2 separate regions of the Homo sapiens genome follow, and region 1 is linked to region 2. The links come from fine-mapping of genetic effects on gene expression. A gene starts in region 2. The other region holds a variant in brackets. All regions are shown on one strand. Distances are from middle to middle.

Region 1 (2,913 bases), 81 kb after region 2:
GTCCCCACTCTCTTCTGGCTTGTAGAGTTTCTGCTGAGAGATCAGCTGTTAGTCTGATGGGCTTCCGTTTGTGGGTAACCCAACCTCTGGCTGCCCTTAAGATTTTTTCCTTCATTTCAACTTTGGTGAATCTGACAATTCTGTGTCTTGGAGTTGCTCTTCTCGAGGAATATCTTTGTGGCGTTCTCTGTATTTCTTGAATTTGAATGTTGGCCTGCCTTGCTAGATTGGGGAAGTTCTGCTGGATAATATCCTGCAGAGTGTTTTCCAACTTGATTCCATTCTCCCTGTCACTTTCAGGTACACCAATCAGACGTAGATTTGGTCTTTTCACATAGTCCCATATTTCTTGGAGGCTTTGTTCGTTTCTTTTTATTCTTTTTTCTCTAAACTTCTCTTCTCGCTTCATTTCATTCGTTTCATCTTCCATCACTGATACCCTTTCTTCCAGTTGATCGCATCAGTTACTGAGGCTTCTGCGTTCGTCACGTAGCTCTTGTGCCTTGGTTTTCAGCTCCATCAGGTCCTTTAAGGACTTCTCTGCATTGGTTATTCTATTTATCCATTCATCTAATTTTTTTTCAAAGCTTTTAACTTCTTTGCCATTGGTTCGAATTTCCTCCTGTAGTTCGGAGTAGTTTGATCGTCTGAAGCCGTCTTCTCTCAACTCATCAGAGTCATTCTCCACGAAGCTTTGTTCTGTTGCTGGTGAGGAGCTGCGTTCCTTTGGAGGAGGAGAGATGCTCTGATTTTTAGAGTTTCCTGTTTTTCTGCTCTGTTTTTTTCCCATCTTTGTGGTTTTATCTACCTTTGGTCTTTGATGATGGTGACGTACAGAGGGGTTTTTGGTGTGGATGTCCTTTCTGTTTGTTAGTTTTCCTTCTACCAGACAGGACCCTCAGCTGCAGGTCTGTTGGAGTTTGCTAGAAGTCCACTCCAGACCCTGTTTGCCTGGGTATCAGCAGCGGTGGCTGCAGAACAGCAGATATTGGTGAACCGCAAATGCTGCTGCCTGATGGTTCCTCTGGAAGTTTTGTGTCAGAGGAGTACCCGGCCGTGTAAGGTGTCAGTCCGCCCCTACTGGGGGGTGCCTCCCAGTTAGGCTACTCGGGGGTCAGGGACCCACTTGAGGAGGCAGTCTGCCCATTCTCAGATCTCCAGCTGCATGCTGGGAGAACCACTACTCTCTTCAAAGTGGTCAGAGAGGGACATTTAAGTCTGCAGAGGTTACTGCTGTCTTTTTGTTTGTCTGTGCCCTGCCCCCAGAGGTGGAGCCTACAGAGGCAGGCAGGCCTCCTTGAGCTGTGGTGGGCTCCACCCAGTTTGAGCTTCCTGGCCACTTTGTTTACCTAATCAAACAACTAACTTGGCAATGGTGGATGCCCCTCCCCCAGCCTCGCTGCTGCCTTACAGTTTGATCTCGGACTGCTGCGCTAGCAGTGAGCCAGACTCCGTGGGCATAGGACCCTCTGAGCCAGGTGAGGGATATAATCTCCTGGTGTGCCGTTTTTTAAGCCCATTGGAAAAGCGCAGTATTAGGGTGGGAGTGACCCAATATTCCAGGTGCCATCTGCCACCCCTTTCTTTGACTAGGAAAGGGAATTCCCTGACCCCTTGCGCTTCCCAGGTGAGGCAATGCCTCGCCCTGCTTTGGCTCGCGTGCAGTGCGCTGCACTCACTATCCTGTGCCTACTGTCTGCCACTCCCCAGTGAGATGAACCCAGTACCTCAGTTGGAAATGCAGAAATCACCTGTCTTCTGCATCGCTCACGCTGGGAGCTGTAGACCAAAGCTGTTCCTATTCGGCCATCTTGGCTCCTCC[G/A]AGAAATGATTTTTTTTTGAGAGGGGGTCTCACTTTGTCACCCAGGCTGGAGTGCAATGGTACGATCTTGGCTCACTGCAACCTCTGCCTCCCTGGCTCAAACAATCCTCCTATCTCAGCCTCCTGAGTAGCTGGGACCACAGGTGTGTGCCACCATACCCAGCTAACTTTTTGTATTTTTGATAGAGATGGGGTTTCACCATGTTGCCCAGGCTGGTCTCAAACTCTTGAGCCCAAGTGATCCACCCACCTAGGCCTCCCAAAGTCCTGGGATTACAGGCATGACCCACCATGCCTGGCCCCGAGAAATGATTTTAAAAAGTAGCAAATGTGAATTTGAATGTGAGTCAACAAGCTTCATGTATCTGAAAAGTGAATATTGAATGATAGCTCGAATAATCCATGCTTATCACAAAAGAGAATTGAACTCTCAGTCATATACCTGTAACCTAAATACTGAACTATCTTGATGGAGATGTAACAAAGTAAGATGGTTACATCTTTAAACTTATATGATCAAGTTGATAATTTTCTTTTAAATGAGAAAAAAGAAGATAGAAGCTTATTCTCTCACATAAATGTAGTCAAAGCTGATTTGGAAGTTCTGTTATTATCAGGGACTCAATCTCCTTCTAGCCTGCTCCTTGGTCATTCCTAACAAATAGCTTCCACCAGTAGTATAAGAATGCCATTCTGGTTCCATCTACCATCTCCTTTTTAGCTATGGAGAAAAAAAATGGAAGGAAAAGGGCCTGCTTTTAGCTTTTAATAAAACTTTTGGGGAGTACCATCAATTACTTCTACTTACATACTTTTGGCCCAAAGCTTAGTCACATGGACACATCTAGCTAGAATGAAAGTTGGAAAATTTTTACATATTCTGGATCTTCATGGGTCCAGATAGAATTTGTCATGTTTACTACAGAAGGCAAAGGAGAAGGAGAAGGAGAAGAAGAAGAAAAAGAAGAAGGAGGAGGAGGACAGAAAGAAGAAGAAAGCTATTGAAGGGCAACAATCAGTGTCCCATCTTGCACACCTAAAAAATGTGTTTGTTCTAGAGTTCCCATGTTGGATAATTTGGCTGTGTATAG
Region 2 (2,913 bases):
CAAACTTTTCAACGCCCCAGATGCAATTTCAGCAGTTAAACGCATGATTTTTCCCCATGAATGTGTGTTCGTGTGTGTGTGTATTTTTAAGTATCCCTTCCCTCACTTTTTGGCACTGGTGCTGCTTTCTGCCTCCAATCTCTCCTCTCTCTGTTTCAGCCTCCACACTACAGCCAGAATCTGCTCTCTAAAATGCAATTGTGATCATGTTACTTCCCTATTTAAAAACCCTTCAATGGTTCACTAATGTCTTGCAGATTAAATTCAAACTCCTTGGTGTGCTAAACAAAGCACTCAAATATCTGGCCCCTTCTACGCGCTTATCGCTCATCATACCCTCTCTTGCATTCACTTAGCTGGTGGTATCAAACTTCTCAACAGTTCCCTACACAAGAGCCTGTTTATTGATCCTTCAGCCTGGAATTACTTCCCTTACCCGACTCAAGACTCTAGCGCCACCTTTGCTATGAAGTCTCTCTTGACCATACTCACAGATAGAACTGATTGTTCCTTTGTGTGTATGCCCACACCCTTACAGGCCTGGATCTTAAGTCTGTTATCACTGCGTTGCGCTTATTTACAAGTATCCGCTGTCCCACCCACGCTCCACTTAGGCCTCTTTATACCCCTAGGTACTCACACAGAGCTTGGCACAAGTGATGCTTTATAAATGGTCAATGAATGAACGTAGTGGAAACACAGAAGAAGAGGGAGAAGAACTGGGGAAGAAAGAAGCTCTGTGGAGAGAATACTAATTGTTTTGCACATGAAAATAATGAGTTGTGAGGGAGGTCAAAAAGGTCAAAGGGAAGAGCCCTGCCTTACAGGAACTCACTGTCTGCTGGGAGGCAAGAGGTAAGGTCCGCATACCAAACACACGAAGCAATGAGCTTATCGGGGTGAAAATGGCTCGTGCACATTATAGTATCACAGAAACTTAGAGGCTGGGGGAGGATGGAGAGGAAACTGGCCTAGTCAAGTGTCTTCTAAGTGTTAGGCGGTTTTCGAGCGTTAAACAGTTTAATCTTTACAACCACCCCATGATGAGGATAGTAGCTCCATTTTAGGGACGAAGAAACATGCTCAGAGAATTTAGGTTGCCCAATGTCACAAACTACCATGTGGAAGGACCATAATTAGAATTTAGGTCAACTGCCTCCAGAGCCCTGAGGCTTTCGCTCCCCCTCTCTCGGCGGTCGAGACCCACAGGGCTCCCATTCACCTGCGCGTCGGCCTGCGCTAGCTATAGCCCTCAGGCGCGCCGCGTTCCGCGCACTCACACCACCCTCTGCGCGCCAGCCCTGCGTCCCTCCCACGCGAACTGCGCCGGCGCGTCCAGCCCTCCCGCCCGGGGGAGGGGCGGGGTTGCGTCGCTGCCGCTGACCCTTGAGCGCGCGGCGGCAGAGGCGGTGTCCAGGCTTCCGGGCGGGTAGTCCTTCGGCTCCGGAGCCGCGACTGCGCTCGCCTAGGTGGTGGGCGGGGAGGGAAGGAAGGGAGCGGGCGCAAGGCGGCGGCGGCGGCTGCGGGTGAGGAACTTGTTGCGCCCGCGGCTGCGCGGTGCCCCTCCCTCCGCTCCAGTTCGTCGGGGCGGGCGCGGCGGCGGCGGCGAAGGAGGAGCGCGGCCGGGGCGATGCGGCGCTACCTGCGCGTCGTGGTGCTGTGTGTGGCCTGCGGCTTCTGCTCGCTCCTTTACGCTTTCAGCCAGCTCGCCGTGTCCCTGGAAGAAGGAACGGGCGGCGGTGGCGGGAAGCCGCAGGCCGCGGTGGCTTCCTGGCTCGCGGGCGGCGGACGCGGCGCCGTGAGAGGCGCCGGCGTCGCGGGCCCCGCAGCGCATCCCGGCGTGTCGGACAGGTACGGGCAGTTCCCGGTGTGGGGGACGCGGCGGGCGCGGGGCGCTGGGCGCGGGCTCGGCCTAGCCCGGGCTGCTCGCCGGTGGGTGCCGCGTCTCCCGCGTCTTTCCTCCTGTCTCTGACCCCTCACTCATTTCCCTCCTTCCCCTCCGGCCGGGGCTAAACCTGCGCTGCTCCCGCCTGAGAGTGTCCTACACTTTCTGTGTTTATCTTTTGACCCAGTCATGCGCCCTTTAAAGCAGTTAGAAATTAATTTTCAACTTTTTAAAAAGAGGGTTCTTTGAAAATAAGAGGTGTCCACAAAAGCCTTACTGCTGCCTGGCTAGTGAGAATTTCCTCTTGTTTCAGTGGAGTTCAAGTTGAGATATTTAAACATGAGGCTGGCGCCCTAGTTCAGTGTTTAAGGATTGTGTGTGTGTGTGTGAGTGTATATGTGTGTGTATTTTGTCCCTCATGCTGATTTTCCTGTGTTAACGCTTACACTTCTAAGTATTAGCCATGGTTAGTTAAATTTGGAAATGGCATTTGTGCGGGTTGTGAAATTTTCTTTTGGAAACACTCAGTTTATTAAGAAACTTAGAGCAAATTAAGAAAAATGAGCGATACTTGGCGTGCTCAAGTCTGTTGTTGGATGGGATGGAGTTACCTTTCTTGACAAATTGGTATTTAAAAAGCGACGTAATGACTTAGGACGTAATCACTGCCAGAGTGGGAATCAACATGAGATTTAAATAGAAAAAAAATGTTTCTGTCAACGCATTATGAATGCTTGAAATCTGAGCGTTTGCACTGCCTTGCAACATGGACACTTCCACCTTATGTATGGGCATCTCTCTGGGAATGACCTGAAGTGCTCCCTACCAAGACTTGGCAAATGCTGCTTTGATATAGAGAAGTATAGGGTTTGTCGGAAGAGGGAGTATAGATCAGTTGTGGGCTGTTGTTTAACATCATTTTGAGAGTCGATGGTCATTCCCAGAATGAAAGGGGAAAGTTTGGGCAGAGGAGCAGCGTGGAAAGCGGACTTGTCATGTTTTTACCCTGAGATTTGATTACAGTCAGG

The links. PIP is the estimated chance that this variant, and not a neighbour inherited with it, causes the effect.
Region 1: its variant is fine-mapped to the expression of GXYLT1 in fibroblasts (GTEx, PIP above 0.99). The same link has a PIP of 0.9 or more in subcutaneous fat.

Annotation. Positions count from the first base shown.
Region 1 is chr12:42,061,890-42,064,802 of GRCh38, reverse strand. No RefSeq gene overlaps it. Among named protein-coding and RNA genes, the nearest start is that of GXYLT1, 82 kb to the left of the region's middle. The variant G/A (reference allele first, on the strand shown) is at 1,823.
Region 2 is chr12:42,143,364-42,146,276 of GRCh38, reverse strand. It overlaps GXYLT1 (glucoside xylosyltransferase 1), which reads left to right and starts at 1,403. Exons shown (of 8, transcript NM_173601.2): 1 at 1,403-1,851. The coding sequence starts at 1,631. RefSeq lists an enhancer at 976-1,045 and silencers at 1,206-1,705, 1,786-2,015.